Linked DNA regions of Homo sapiens. Each later gene encodes a partner of the first gene's protein in a complex. Each region holds a gene or a part of one and is shown on either strand. Other genes may lie near its edges. The genes, in order: F3 and F7. A codon is read from its position in the direction of its gene.

Region 1 (7,659 bases):
GTAGACTTTGGTTCCAGACCTGACATGGGCACTCACCATCAGTGTAGTCATGAATAAATCCCTCACTTCTCAGAGCAACAGTTTCCTCAACTGTAAAATGACTGCTCTGGTCCTTTTTAACCAGGAATCTCATTTATTCCTGGGGTGGGCAGGAGAAGAGTGCACACCTCAGGCCGAGGCTGATGGAAAAGCTCCCAGGCCCTCCAGTACAGCAGCAAGAGATTGTTCAGTCCATAGGACCACCCTGAGTCGGCTGGCATCCCCCAAGCTGTAGCCCTGCGCTCTGCTGTTTGCAGATCAGGAGCTGTGCTCATTTAAATAACAGCAGCCTTATAAAGTTCAAGAACTTACAGTTAACAAAGGCTTATGTTTAAAAAGCAGATGAATCATAAATATATTCCCATGTGTCCCTCAAATATTAGATTGAATATATTTAGGAGGTAAGCATTCCTCCCAAAATCTAATTTTTACCATATGGAAGTAAAGTGTTTACTAAGGTAAACTTCAGGCCTGTATCAGAGAAATTACTTACTAATTCTCAATTGGTGAAATCTGAATTGACAAGTTTGACCAGAACTGTAATCATTATTTCATGTTATGAAATTCCTTCATCTTTCTCTCCCCCCACCCCCATACATATCCACACATGCATGCACGTATGCATGCAAGTTCTCCTTGCTGGTTTGGCAACTACTGTCATGAAGTTCATTTTGAAAAACAAGAACATTCACTTAAAAGATGCATCGTTATCTAGAAGTTGCATTCCTAATGCTGTAAAAGGCCTGGCACAAGCTAAAACAAAACAGAACAGCAAAATACCTTTTGTTTTAGCTAGTGCTACTTTTGTACTTTTATGTAATTAGCATTAAAATAATTTCCACAGCAGCTATTCTCTATTTCATAAGATCTCTACCAAGCCTCCTAGAACATTTCAAAAACCAAAAACTTGCCAAGAATATGGTGAAAACCATCAAGGAAGTCATAACCTTTAGATTGAACATGCTGAATTATCGCCTCCTGGGGACAGCTGCCAGTCAGAGTTGAGGCACCAAGAAGCAGAGCCACACCAGACCCAGAGGGTGCAGACAGCAGAGTATTTCTGCTCTGCCAGGCTCAGTGAGTCACGCATTTGGCCTCCTCCACTAAGATCATGTATTCTACCAGATTTCGATTCATGGAGTCCAAAGATGAATGAATCAAACACTGCTTAAGGGCAATGTATACATTGGGATTCCTCCCCACCTCTTCCCTAAGGTGTTAGACATTGTTCACAGTCTAGACAGCAACAGAAAAAGACATCAATGTTTAGATGAGATTAATTAATCTATCATGACCCAAAGCACACTTCAGTGCCTACTCAAGATGGTTCATCTCTCCACAGTTTATACTCCACTTAGGAACTCTCCCATCATTTCCAAAAACAATTAAAACAATTAAAATGTTCTATCAGTTTAAGGTCTGGAAATGTTGCAGGCCTAATAGAGTATGACACCGGCCAGCGAATTGCCAAGAATCCCTTCTTCTTCGTCATCTGTTAAATAATTTCATCCAGTAATCAGCTTTAAAGACATTCTTGTTCAGCATAGGACAGTAGAAACATCAAAGACCTTAATTTTCTTTTTCTGTACCCAGCTTACCTTATTTGAACAGTGTAGACTTGATTGACGGGTTTGGGTTCCCACTCCAAAATTGTCTTGAAATTAGTTGATTTCCAAGTTAAATTATATGCTGCCACAGTATTTGTAGTGCCTTTAAACAACAGAGAAACAGCTATTATTACATGCACTTCAGAGCACTCGAATGTATTGATGTATAAAACACCTTCCCACCTGACATCACCATAAACCTCACTTTTTATTTTTCAACCACAAAAGCTTCATTAGTGAATTATCAAGAGAAAAAGAATCTTCAAATTTTTTCTAGACCTAGAATTTCTTCATGACAAGATTCACCTTGTAATCCCAGGACACCGGCAAGGATCTTGACATTTTCGTTTGAAATTATTCATGGGCAAAGCCTTGTTATAACTTGACCGGGAAGAGCCCAGAGCCATCAGTGTGCCAGTCCAGGACTCAGCTCAGGAAGAGTCAGGTTCAGCCCGCCAGGAAGGGTTTTCAGTAAGTTATGGAAAAAGATAAATCCCACACGTGTGACAAGAGTTAGGACTGCATACAAATGAAAAAAGCCAAACTTCACTTTTTCCACTTTTATCTGAAATGTCGCTACACTGAAACTTCCACAGAGACCCACGGGGACGTGTGGCCTGTCACACCGTCGGCTGTATTGGATCAGGATTATTTCTTATGAAGGTCTGCTTTGCCAGTACGCAGCAGGTCCCAGTCTCTACGCCGTCCCGAACACCTCGTAGAAATACGGGGCATGCACAACGTTGTACCTGCTCCAATCTAAGCAGCAATCCAGCCCTTTTGGATTGCCTCTACCCAAACCTAGAACAAAGATGGCCAGGAAAAGACCAGGGACGCTCTTTATTAAGGGAAGATGCACATATAATGAAAGATAATATCCAAACCTCTGCACGCCAACACGTGCAGACGCAGGCACAAGTCCTATCATATTGAAGGTCGCAACTCACTGGGAAGCCCTTTCCCCAGAGTTAAAGCGGGAGCTAAAAGTCCGCTTATGCAACAACAGTCCAATTACTCGGACACCCCGAGCAAAACTCTCCAGCGGAAGGGGCAGCGGGGTCTGGGGCGCCAACTCCCTCCCTGCAACTCCCGCCGGCGCCCGACGGACTCGGTTCATTCAAGCCGGGCTGGGTGAGCGCAGCCGAGTCCCGTAGGCGCGGGGGACAACATGGGCGCCCCGGGGAACCAGGGCGAGCCCGCTGCCAGCCAGGACTGTCGCCTCCCTCCTGCGTGTGGCGCGCCCCGGGCTTCCAGGGGCTGGTGCCACTCACCTGAAGCGCCGGCCACCTGGGCGAAGACCCAGCCGAGCAGGAGCGTCCGAGCGACGGCGGTCTCGGGGCGCGGGACCCGGGGCCAGGCAGGGGTCTCCATGTCTACCAGTTGGCGGCGAGATCGAGCGGGTTCCGTGGCGCCCGTGGGGCTGGGGAGGTTGGGCTGAAGGCGCCCTGGGCCGGCCAGAGGGAGTGCGAGGGGGTGCGGGGAGCTCGCAGTCTTGGGGAGCCGGTGCCCCGCGCGCTATAAAGGGCCGGCGGCGCGCTCTCCCGCGCCTCTGCCCGCCCCCGGCGCCCGCCCCCGCCGCTCCTCCCGACTCCCCGCCCCCGGCCCGGGTCACTTGCCGTCGCGGTGGGCGGCCCCCGGCGAGTCCACACCCCTGCCCCGCCTCCTCCCGGTAGGAAACTCCGGGACCCTGCAAGGGATGACTCACCCCAGTGATTCAACCGCGCCACCGAGCGCGGAGCTGCCCTGGAGGACGCAGGCGGGTCTAGTTGCCCGGGTCCCCCAAGGCCCCCGGATTCACCCAGGCCCGCGACTCCGACGTGCAGCTTAGGTGGGTTGCAGGTCTATGGCAGGAAAGGGAGGGCGCCTTGGAAGAATTCTTCCCTTCCATTTGGTGATAAAGTGGGAGAGGCGGCATTTACAACATTTAATAGAAAGCACGGGCTCTGGGCTCCCCTCGGGCAGCGGAGGGCATTTCCCGGATGCTTTGCCCACCTGGGGCAGAAGCTCGGGACCTGCAGCGAAGTAAACGTGTGGCTGTGAGCAGGGCCCTCTCCCAGCCACGGTGGCTTCTTCTACCCCACGAAGGTCAAGAATACCTGGCCTGCCCACCTCGCGGGGCCCTTAGCGGGTCGCACAGGAGAAAGGCGGTGGGAATGCCGGTGTCAGCCACGGTGTGACCGGCTCGGCTCACAGGTCTGAGGGTCAGTTGGCTCAGGCATCGCCCGGTACGACCAGAGATAGTGACTGAGGAAGAGCAGCCTCACATCTGGCAGTTTGCCTCTGGGAGAATTCCAGCGTGACATCTGCAGCTCTGTGGTTCCAGAAAGGATGGTTCCCACATTGAAGAAGACATCTGTGGGACTGAGTTCCACCGAAATGCAGAGGAACCAAAAATGAAAATGAAAAATGTAACCAGAGTTGTGTGCCACTAGTTTTAAGCTTTGGTTTTTCTAAATTATTTTCTGGCTTCTCCTTCTGGGCTTTGCTGTAAACTTGCCAAGCATGAGAACAACTCTTCATCTATTGAGTGGCATTTTAAGCCATCCTGTCAAAGTATCTCCTGTCATTTTTATTATTATTACTCTATATTGCCTGCAAGACACGACTGGAGAATTCTTAGTGTAAGAATTGTTTGTTTCCTCTCTCCTTCTTTCCCACGTTTTCCCAGGGAAGTCAGTCTTGCATTTTAATGCATACTATATACATATCTCGTTTAGCTTACTGAACCACTTGTTTTAACAGAATAAAACTGTGCAAAATTTTAATTTTCCTCCTTTGCCTGAACTGAAATAGCACATCCAGGTTTAGCCCTTGTAGACTTTCCTTCCTCGAAGCAGAAAGTTGCCCTTGATGATTTCCTCTTTGAGCTCTCTGCCAGCTCTGAAACCCACAAAATTTATGTTTGCAAAACTAAGCCATGCAATCCTCTTTTTATGCAGGCTCTAGCCTGAGTCATTTTCCCTAAGAGATCTTCAGCTCCACCTGGGATGTGATTCTTTGCTCTCTGGGATTGAAGGTAGCTGAAGAGAAATAGTTACACTTCAGGTTTGTTACAAGACCCAAGAAATTGTTGCAATTCCACTTGGAGTCACTGACTTTTCTGAAATCATATAGGGCTTTAAACAATGTCAAGATCAGCCATTTGATAAGAAAAATGTTTACCATTGGATTGTGATACACAATGTGCCTTAAATATTGATAAATTAGATGAATATTTATTTTGTATATCCATTAAAATAGACAGGAAAGAGAAGATGTTGGGTGTTTGCACAGGCTTTTTAGTCAGTACGGAATGACATTCTTCAAGATTTAAAAATGCTAAAATCATTACTATTTTCAAGAAGAGGGAGGAAGAAAACGTGGTAAATAATATTTCATTGCGAAGTGTTTTTCCCTGACTGATCTAATTGTGGCCAGATCTACTTTTTGACGGTGCGAAGTGTACTTTTTAATGGTGCCAAACAGCAGTTGATCTATAATAACTGCTGCTTGGCACCATTAAAAAGTACATATCTAAAATTTCACTGTTGAAATTTGTTCACAAGAACAAATTGACTGTTAAAATTATTCCCTAACCTTAACACAATTTTTTTTACTCCTGTCAGTAAAGTCAAGCTTAGCAGTTAACAGTTCCCTCCTCCATGATCTATCTTGGAGGCTCTGAGAAGTTCAAAAAGTTACTAAACTATAACAATAATCTCTCTGGCTTGACCAGTCCCTTTCTCATTGGATTTTAGGATGTCAGAGGATGGGAGAACCTCACAGACATTCTTTTATGGATGAGAACCCTGTGGCCAGCTGATCTGAGTAAACTGGCTTGCCTAACCACACAGTGCAGATCTGGTCTTCTGACCCCGGGGGCTTTCCTTCCATCACCAGGCTTTCTCCTACTCCCAATGAAGGAAAGTAAGACTGGGTGGTAAATCCATCAAATGAATGATTAATTAATCCATCCATAAGCACTCAAAAATGTTCTGCATGTACACAAAGTGCAGAAAAGTGCAAAACTGCACAAAAACTGCACACAAAGTATAGAAAATACTTTGCAGTTTGGGGAACTCATTGTTCTTAGGCAGAAATATCCTGATGGTTAGTCCTTGAAATAGACAGACAAGGAGACACGTAGAAGAGTTTGAATTCCCTTTGCATAACCAGTGATGAAATGTGGTTGATGAGAAGTCTGAAAATAACTGCGGAGATGTTTCAGCCCTTCCACTGTACTTTTATAGTACTTGCTGCCAATTTTACCGACTCATTTTCATTGAGAACTTCACTTAATCTCACTTGTGTGTTTACCTGTTAATCTTTCCTGTTGGATTGGGTTTTTTGTCTGTTTTTTTCCTCTCTCAACCCTTTCCACAATTATCAGCACATAATAGGCACTTAATACCTTTTGAGTCAATGAATACTTTATAAAACTATGAGTGCAACCAAATATTTCACTGGTGTTCAAGAGATGAAATCTGTCACTGAAAACTCTTTCTAGGGGCCAGGCAGTGAGTGTTTCATGATGCTGAGATTGGTAAGAAAATACAAATCCATCATGACTGGAAAGGCACCACTCGACCGCAAGTTCTAGCAGTCTAACCAGTGATTAGCTATCTCTGCACCACCAGAAAATCTCACCAGGAGGAGAGATAGCTGAGAAGCAGAAACCAGATACAGAAGTTTGGAAACTAGCTAGCATTTTTTTAAAAGACTGGATTCTACGATGATTCAGAATATACTTCATCATGCGATGAGGTTGTTGATAGTTTTCCTTGCATACAGAGGCTGAATAACTTTTTAAAACAAATTCCTCAAAATGTTTATTTCCCAGGAAAGAGATAGGTTAAGATACATGATAGCAAGTAAAATTGAGAATAATTCAGAGAAACTTATTTTATGCATATGAAATGGTAAAAAGAGCAATGAAACCATTACCCAAAATTCAGGTAAAAGGCAAAGTATGAGAAAAGGCCAGAGGGAATTAGGAGTTAGTAGGAACACAGAGTTCTGGAGGAAAAGGAAAAAAGTGACTCAGCAGAACCTAAGAAACATCTGGCTGGGTATAGTTAGTCATGGAAAAATTGGCAGTCATGATTATGCATTTTGTGAAAATAGCAATATACTAGTCCAACAGTTCATTTAGACCAAAATTAAACAGTTGAAAGTCAGTATGATAAAATCTATTATCCTGGTCATTCAAAATACTTCTATCAACTGTCTAGAACAGCTTACAAGAAGCTTTGCTAAATGAGTTATCACATAGCACCAGTATTCTGAAAAATGTAACTTTAGAGAAAAACCTTCCAATTCAAGTCTTAGACTGGGATTGGTATTTTCAGCAGACATCTATTTTTATAAACGTAAAGCTTATCAAACTACCTTTCAACTTTCATTTTGATGAACAGTAAATATTATTTTATTATCTACATACAATGGTGACAAAATAGATAAATAATAAATATGAATTGTGGGTATTATTTTAGTAACAAAAAGTCATTTAAAATGAAAACCCTTAACCTATGTTCTTATTAATATAATATTTATGTGATTTAAAATTTTGTATATGGTATCATTTACTTAAGCATCTCTTAATTCCTCATTTCTGTAACTCTTTATACCTGACATATGTACTAAATTTGATGAACAGAAATTCATTCATTCAACAAATGCTTGAATGTCCACCAGATACTGGGTTCTTTGCTAGACTCTGGATGTACAGAGTAAAACAAAGAAGTCCCTTTCCTGTTAAACATATCATCATTCCTACTTATGTCCAGATTTTATGTTTGTTTGTTTGTTTTTTGAGACAGAGTTTCGCTCTTGTTGCCCCAGGCTGGAGTGCAATGGCACAATCTCGGCTCACTGCAACTCCACCTCCCAGGTTCAAAGCAATTCTCCTGCCTCAGCCTCCTGAGTAACTGGGATTACAGGCATGTGCCACCATGCCCAGCTAATTTTGTATTTTTAGTACATACAGGTTTATCTATGTTGGTCAGGCTGGTCTCAAACTCCCGACCTCAGGTGA
Region 2 (7,939 bases), on another chromosome or scaffold:
CCCCCGGGACACCCACACTCCCGGGACACCCACGCCCCCGGGACACCCACACCCCTGGGACACCCACGCTCCCGGGACACCCACGCCCCCGGGACACCCACGCTCCCGGGACACCCTCGCCTCCGGAACACCCACACTCCCGGGACACCCTCGCCTCCGGAACACCCACACTCCCGGGACACCCACTCCCCCGGGACACCCACACTCCCGGGACACCCACGCCCCCGGGACACCCACACCCCTGGGACACCCACACTCCCGGGACACCCTCGCCTCTGGAACACCCACACTCCCGGGACACCCACGACCCCCGGGACACCCACACCCCCGGGACACTCACACTTCTGGGATACCCTCGCCTCTGGAACACCCACACTCCCGGGACACCCACGCCCCCGGGACACCCACACTCCTGGGACACCCTCGCCTCCGGGACACCCACACTCCCGGGACACCCACTCCCCCGGGACACCCACACTCCCGGGACACCCACGCCCCCGGGACACCCACGCTCCCGGGACACCCTCGCCTCCGGGACACCCACGCTCCTGGGACACCCTCGCCTCCGGAACACCCACACTCCCGGGACACCCACTCCCCCGGGACACCCACACTCCCGGGACACCCACACCCCCGGGACACCCACACCCCCGGGACACCCACACTCCCGGGACACCCTCGCCTCCGGAACACCCACACTCCCGGGACACCCTCGCCTCCGGAACACCCACACTCCCGGGACACCCACAACCCCCGGGACACCCACGCCCCCGGGACACCCACACTCCCGGGACACCCTCGCCTCCGGAACACCCACACTCCCGGGACACCCTCGCCTCCGGAACACCCACACTCCCGGGACACCCACGCCCCTGGGACACCCACACTCCCGGGACACCCTCGCCTCCGGAACACCCACACTCCCGGGACACCCTCACCTCCGGAACACCCACACTCCCGGGACACCCACGCCCCCGGGACACCCACACTCCCGGGACACCCTCGCCTCCGGAACACCCACACTCCCGGGACACCCTCACCTCCGGAACACCCACACTCCCGGGACACCCACGCCCCCGGGACACCCACACCCCCGGGACACCCACGCCCCTGGGACACTCACACTTCTGGGATACCCTCGCCTCCGGAACACCCACGCCCCCGGGACACCCACGCCCCCGGGACACCCACGCCCCCGGGACACGCACACTCCCGGGACACCCTCGCCTCCGGAACACCCACACTCCCGGGACACCCACACTCCCGGGACACCCACGCCCCCGGGACACCCACACTCCCGGGACACCCACGCCCCCGGGACACCCACACTCCCGGGACACCCACGCCCCCGGGACACCCACGCTCCCGGGACACCCACGCCCCCGGGACACCCACACTCCCGGGACACCCTCGCCTCCGGGACACCCACACTCCCGGGACACCCACTCCCCCGGGACACCCACACTCCCGGGACACCCTCGCCTCCGGGACACCCACACTCCCGGGACACCCACTCCCCCGGGACACCCACACTCCCGGGACACCCACGCCCCCGGGACACCCACACTCCCGGGACACCCTCGCCTCCGGGACACCCACACTCCCGGGACACCCACTCCCCCGGGACACCCACACTCCCGGGACACCCTCGCCTCCGGGACACCCACACTCCCGGGACACCCACGCCCCCGGGACACCCACACTCCCGGGACACCCACGCCCCCGGGACACCCACACTCCTGGGACACCCACGCCCCCGGGACACCCACACTCCCGGGACACCCACACCCTTGGAGGCTGGTGTGAGCAGAGCCGGTGACCGCCCTGGGGTGAAAGCAGATTTGCATCAGAAAAGCTCTCAAGAACTGAGGAAAACCTGATGAAGAACACACGATTATCTGGAAGGAACAGAATGGAGCAAAGAAGATAAAATCGCCTGCACCCCAGTCCCAGGGAAGGCCAAGCTGGAGCGGTCACTTCCTCTCGAGCAGGGAACACCCTCCTTGGGGGGCACTGCAGTAGCCACCCCGCGGGCTGGCTCTTTGCCATGGGAGGGGAAGGAGGTGATGTTGGCCCCCACTGGGCCCCAGGACAAAACCAGTGGCAGTCCCTGCTCACCTCTGTGAGGCCCCGGCTTCCACGGCATGTCCCGTGTTTCTCCTCCTGAGGCCTTAGCGACCCCGCCTGGGGCAGGAAGGTGGCCGGGGTCATAAGGCCATGCTGTGAGCTAGGGCTGCAGCCCCACATCCCAGGCACTGTCCCTCACAGCCCACCCCCCACTCGCCATCCCCACACGCCATCCCCACGCCCCACTAGCCATCCTCACGCCACACCCCCTACTCGCCATCCCCATGCCCCACTCACCATTCCCAGGCCCCAGCCCCACTCGCCATCCCCACCCCCCCATGCCCCATCCTCTGCACCCCACACGCCCTTTCCATGCCCCATCCCCCACACCCCACATGCCCCATCCCCGACACCCCACACACCCCATCCCCCACACCTCCATGCCCCATCCCCTGCACCCCACACGCCCTTTCCATGCCCCATCCCCCACACCCCACACACTTTCCCACACCTCACCCCCACACCCCATGCCCCACATGCTGTTTCCCAGGCCCCACCCCCCCACGGCCCATCCCCCACACCCCACACGCCATCCCCACCCCCGATCCTCCACACCCCATCCCCTACGCCCCACATGCCGTTTCCCACACCCCATCCCCCATGCCCCAGGCGCCATCCCCCACGCACCGTCCCCTACCTGTGCTCCCCAGCCTGGGAGCACCCTGTGCGCACTTCCTGCACTCTGAGAGGCCCCAGACTCCCTGCGCTTGTCCGACCTCACAGGCAGGGGCCCATGGGGGCCAGGAAAGCACCACCCACTCCTAAAGTTCTTTGAAAAATAATCCCGCCAAAGCCTGGGCCACCAAGAAGGGCCTCCCCTCCTGTGCCTGGATGCTGGTTTCTAGAAGGAAAGAAATTGAACAGGAGCCGCCAGAAAACCCTCCTGGTGGATGGGGGTGTCCGGAGCAAGGGCGGGGTTTGGGAAGCCCGGGCTGGCTCCTGGATTTGCCCACTGCCCTTCCACCAAGTTTATGGAGAAAACCTCCCCGGACGCACCTGCAGCCAGGCAGCCCTGAAGCCCAAGCAGAAGGCAGAGGAGCCTGAGGGCCTGGGAGACCATGATGAAATCTCTGCAGTGCTGCCCCTGCCTGTTGACATTCCCCATGGGACTGACGGGCAAAGTTCTCTGCCTCCAAGGGTGACAGAGGGATGGGGGAGGGGAGGACACAGGCGTCCTCTGAACACCCCAGCTGAGAGCTGCACCTGGCCGGCCAGTGGCCATGCATCCCCTGCTGCCCAGCCACTGAGCTCAAGTGGGGGGGACAGGAGAAAGGTCAGGTGACCCCAGCTGTGCTGCAGAGCGGACGGTTTTGTTGCCAGCGTGCAGGTGTTAAGGTGTGTGTGGCACCAACACTTCAAATACGATCTAGAATTCCAAACCCCTAATGTAAGTTGGGAAACAGATTTAAACTGCAGATGAAAACTTGTCCCATAGCAATCATGCGAGTCAAATCTCAAGACTGTATCTTGGGTGTGGATGTAAATATTTGAAGAGAGCCTCCAGACCAGGCCAGCTAGGCCGTTGCCTGCAAGGGAGGCTGGTTTCTTAGGTGAGCCACAGAGCCTCACTGAGAAGTGCCGGGAATAGGATCATTCTGGCCCTGAGCTGGGCACCCCCACTCCGTTTTGACTGCAGGCAGCACCCCCATTCTCCAGCGGTCCACATCTTACGTCTTTTTGTTTGTTTTGTTTTGTTTGTTTGAGACAGAGTCTTGCTCTGTTGCCAGGCTGGAGAGTGCACTGGTGCAATCTCACTGCAACCTCCACCTCCCGGGTTCAAGTGATTCTTGTGCCTCAGCCTCCTGAGTAGCTGGGACCACAGGTGCACGTCACCATGCCTGGCTAATTTATATATATATATTTTTTTTTTTTAGCAGAGATGGGGTTTCACCGTGTTGACCAGGCTGGTTTCGAACTCCTGACCTCAAGTGATCCACATGCCTCAGCCTCCCAAAGTGCTGGGATTACAGGCGTGAGCCACTGTGCCCGGCTGGCGGCAGTCCACGTCATTTCTACCTGCTGTCATGGGCCCAAGCCACAAGCTGTGGTGACTAACCACCCCAGGTTGCCCAGGGACTGAGGGTTCTCAGAATGTGGAACTTTCCATCCCAAAAACACTGGGGTAGACGGTCATCCAAGCCTCCTGGGTTGCCCAGCAGGCCTGTCTGACCCCTCAAGCAGGGAGTATCCTCCATGTGAACAGTTGCATTGCTGATGACTTCTTTGGAAGCTGATGTCCAGTTCTTTTTACGGCTGGAGGGAGGGAGGTGATTCCTTCCCAACAGCCAAGTCTTAGCTCAGGGGTGCCTTTCAAAGCAGCCCCCAGCACCCCCAAAGCCTCCCTGCTTGCTGCTGACCTGCATCTCAGTCCAGAGAGCAGAGCACTTGCTGAGGGGCCGACAGGGCATGTTTTCTCTTCCACCCAGCACAGCTGAAGCCCATCTGTGCCCCTCCATGATATCGATCCCAGGGAGATCGCTTACAAAGTAGCTGCTCCGTCTGGAATAAAGCTCACGTCCAGCTCAAATCTGGTCCCCGCGGCTCTCGGCCAGCACAGCCCAAGGTAATTTCAGGACGTGGAGGGGAGGGGGCCATATCTAAACCCTACCCCTTTCCCACCTGAGAGTAGATGGCTGGCTGGTCTTAGGGTACCCTTCCCCTTTGGGGCTCCAGGTCAGAGGTCCTCAACCCTCTCTGGGCAGCAGAATGACCTGGGGAACCTCAAGCGCCAAAACCCCCTGAGAGATTCAGTGGCTCATGGCCTCGGGGCTGGTGAAGCTCTTCAGGTGATGGACCCTCACCTGCATGCAGCCCTCTCTGTGCGGGCAGGCGGGAGGGGGCAGGAACCGGGCTATCTGGCTGGGCTCTCTGCCCGTCTCACTGCTGGCCAGGGCGGCTGCAGGTGCCCGCCTATGGCCATTGTCCTGGTGTGGGTCCTTGAGGACACAGGTGTGAGGGGCTCCACCTGGCCCCGGGGACCCGCTCCATACCTCCCTGAGGGGGACCTGCCTGCTGGTCTCCCTCCCACGTCTGTCCCAGGGGCATGCCTGGAACCTTGCCTGGGGCTGGACCCGGCCACACGGAGTAGCAGGTGTGGGGGCTGCTGCACCATCCCTCTCACAAAACCCCACTTCCTCCCTTCAGGGAGGCTAACCAGGCTCTCCCAGGACTCCCGGGACCTCCTCTGGGGCCTCCTTGGACATGCTGTGGCCCTGTCACTAGGATGGGAGGGTCCTTCAGCCCCTACCCTGGGGAAGGGCACGGTCACAGCTCTGTTCCCAGGCCAGGCCTCCCTCTCTCCTGTGGCAGCCTCTGTTGATCCACCCATCCACTCATTCCCGCCTGCAAGAAGGGCTGGGCCCCTCCGCCTCACAGTCACTCTTGAGTGTGGAGGACACAGGAAAACTTTGGTTGTCATCTCAAGGCAAGTTGCTTGTTTGGGGGCTACAGAAACCACGTCAGCACCTTGTTCATCTGCAGCCATCCCTGACTGTGGTGGTGGGCACACGTGAGCTGTCCAGGGAGTGTGTGAGTCAGATGTCTGTGACATCAGAATCTCTTGGGTGGTGGCTCATGCCTGTAATCCCAGCACTTTGGGAGGCTGAGGACTGAGGATCGCTTGAGGAAAGGAGTTCCAGACCAACCTGGGCAACATAGCAAGACCAAAGCTAGACAAAAAATAAAAAAATTAGCTGGGCTTGGTGGTTCATGCCTGTGGTCCCAGAGACAGAGAACCCGGGAGGCAGAGGTTGCAATGAGCTGAGATTGTGCCACTGCACTCAAGCCTGGGCGACAGAGGGAGACCCTGACTCCTTCCCTACCAAAGAATCTCCATGCTCACACTCGTACATGAGAACCACGCTCGCACAACCCAAACTCACGCCATACACATACCACACTCACACACACCGTACACATGCCACACTCATACCCCAAAGTCACACCACATAAACACACCCCTATACACATGCCACACACCTACACACACGTGATTTCCAGGCTCTTCCACACCCATAAGGAATTGGAATCTACGGGCAGGTCCCGGGAATAGTATTGAACAAACATCCAGGGAAACTGCTATGTGTTCTCGTTTTGGGAACCAGTGAGCACATCCCACCTGGTGCCAAATGCATCTCGGCAGGACGCATGTATGCCAGGGAAACAGGCAGCCACTAACAGGATTTGAGCTTGGGCACCAATTGGTTCCAAATCCTATTTGGTGCAATCCTAGAAGCAAGGGTTTCCTTGTGACGGAGGGTGCAGGGCATGGGAGGACAGAGGAGCTGCGTGCACGGATGCCTGTGTGCCCTGTGCCTGCAAAGCCGCCACAGCAAGCTGTCTTGCAGGCCAGTTCCAATGGCTGACAGTGTGTGCACTGGCGAGGAAAAGCCTGTGCTAAGCGGAACTCTGCTGTCTGTGCAGAGAAGGGAGCTGGGCCTGGGCACCACTGTCAGCCAGTAGAGCACGGGGCTGCTCCCTCCACCCCACCCGGGTGCTTTGCCTTCTTGGGGCCACAGCTGGAGGCAGCTGAGCCCTCGGGCCTGCCGGGTGTCACACCAGTGCTGTAGGATGCTAACTTTCAGTTTAAGAGAGAGAATGTATGCAAGGTTGAACAGTTATGATTTTGAGCAGAATTTTTCTTCTCTGGGCCTTGGTCCTGCTTTTCACCCTTGTCTGGGGTCTTAGCGTGGAGAGAAATTCACCATGGGATGTGCTCAGATTGTCCATCTTATCTTTTTGTCCATCTCTTAAAGTGTAGCTTGTCTTTTGTAAGAAATCTATCCTTGCCCTAGGCAATAAGAATATTCTGTTTCCTCATAATAATGTTTTAATCTTAAGTTTGGGGGGGCTATACTTTTATGCCATCATCCACATGGAAAGGCAGCTGTCCCAATAACACCCGTTCCTGAAGAGGCCATTCCGTGCCAAAGATTGACCAGCCCCAGGACAAGCCAGGTCCCTGCACACATCCCTGCCTGGGAATCTGAATTCTGCTCGACCAGTTTAGCCTCTCTCCCCCTTGTCACGACTGATGACAGGTTTATGATCTATCCAGATGCCTGGTAGGTGAGCCCTCCTCCTCCTGCCTCTGCTCCCCGAATCACCACGGCTATACTCAGACCTTTATCTTCTATGTTTATTACAATCAACTTCCTAATTCCACAAAGAATTCTGTTGGAATTTTGATGAAATACACAGATTAACTTGGGGGAGAGTTAACACTTTGGTGATACTGAATTGTCCCATCCATAAAAATCTCCCATTTAGGCCTTCTTTTATGACCTTCTATCATGTTTCATAATTTTGTCCAAAACTTTTGTTACATTTATTTTAGTATTTAGGTTGCTGTTAAAATAGTATTGTTATTGCTAGGAATGTTAATAACTTTTTGTGGGTTGATCTTGTGGACTTCTTAGTTTCAATAGTTTATGAATTCACCTGGTTTTTCTAGATATGAAAAGTTATTTTTCAATTAGCATGCCTTGGTTCCTTTTTCTTTTTTTCTTTTTTTGAGATGGAGTTTCACTCTTGTTGCCCAGGCTGGAGTGCAATGGCGACATCTCGGCTCACGGCAACCTCTGCCTCCTGGGATCAGGCGATTCTCCCGTCTCAGCCTCCCGAGTAGCTGGGATTACAGGCATGCACCACCACGCCCGGCTAATTTTGTATTTTTAATAGAGACGGGGTTTCACCGTGTTAGCCAGGATGGTCTCGATCTCCTGACCTCGTGATCTGCCGCCTCGGCCTCCCAAAGTGCTGGGATGACAGGCCTGAGCCGCCGCGCTGGCCTTGTTTCCTTTTCCTTTGCGGT

The links.
Region 2: the proteins of F3 (region 1) and F7 are in contact, whole or in part, in a crystal structure (PDB 6R2W), measured with the Homo sapiens proteins. Residues at the interface, in NP_001984.1 of Homo sapiens: Thr49 (codon at 1,705), Asn50 (codon at 1,702), Lys52 (codon at 1,696), Ile54 (codon at 1,690), Glu56 (codon at 1,684), Trp77, Lys78, Ser79, Lys80, Phe82, Tyr83, Glu88, Asp90, Asp93, Gly141, Gln142, Thr144, Glu162, Arg163, Thr164, Leu165, Arg167, Phe172, Tyr188, Trp190, Lys191, Ser192, Ser194, Ser195, Gly196; in NP_000122.1 of Homo sapiens: Leu73, Lys78, Phe91, Arg96, Leu99, Phe100, Ser103, Ser120, Lys122, Gln124, Leu125, Ile129, Cys130, Phe131, Cys132, Leu133, Pro134, Phe136, Glu137, Gly138, Arg139, Lys145, Gln148, Ile150, Val152, Asn153, Glu154.

Annotation. Positions count from the first base shown.
Region 1 is NC_000001.11:94,538,620-94,546,278, forward strand, and holds the start of F3 (tissue factor isoform 1 precursor), read right to left. Parts: upstream 3,141-7,659; 5' UTR 3,018-3,140; coding exon 2,918-3,017; intron 1,750-2,917; coding exon 1,638-1,749; intron 1-1,637. UniProt on the Homo sapiens protein: Initiates blood coagulation by forming a complex with circulating factor VII or VIIa. The [TF:VIIa] complex activates factors IX or X by specific limited proteolysis.
Region 2 is NC_000013.11:113,101,090-113,109,028, reverse strand, and holds the start of F7 (coagulation factor VII isoform b precursor), read right to left. Parts: upstream 3,239-7,939; 5' UTR 3,233-3,238; coding exon of another isoform or gene 3,188-3,232; coding exon 3,124-3,187; intron 2,185-3,123; coding exon of another isoform or gene 2,119-2,184; intron 1-2,118. UniProt on the Homo sapiens protein: Initiates the extrinsic pathway of blood coagulation. Serine protease that circulates in the blood in a zymogen form. Factor VII is converted to factor VIIa by factor Xa, factor XIIa, factor IXa, or thrombin by minor proteolysis.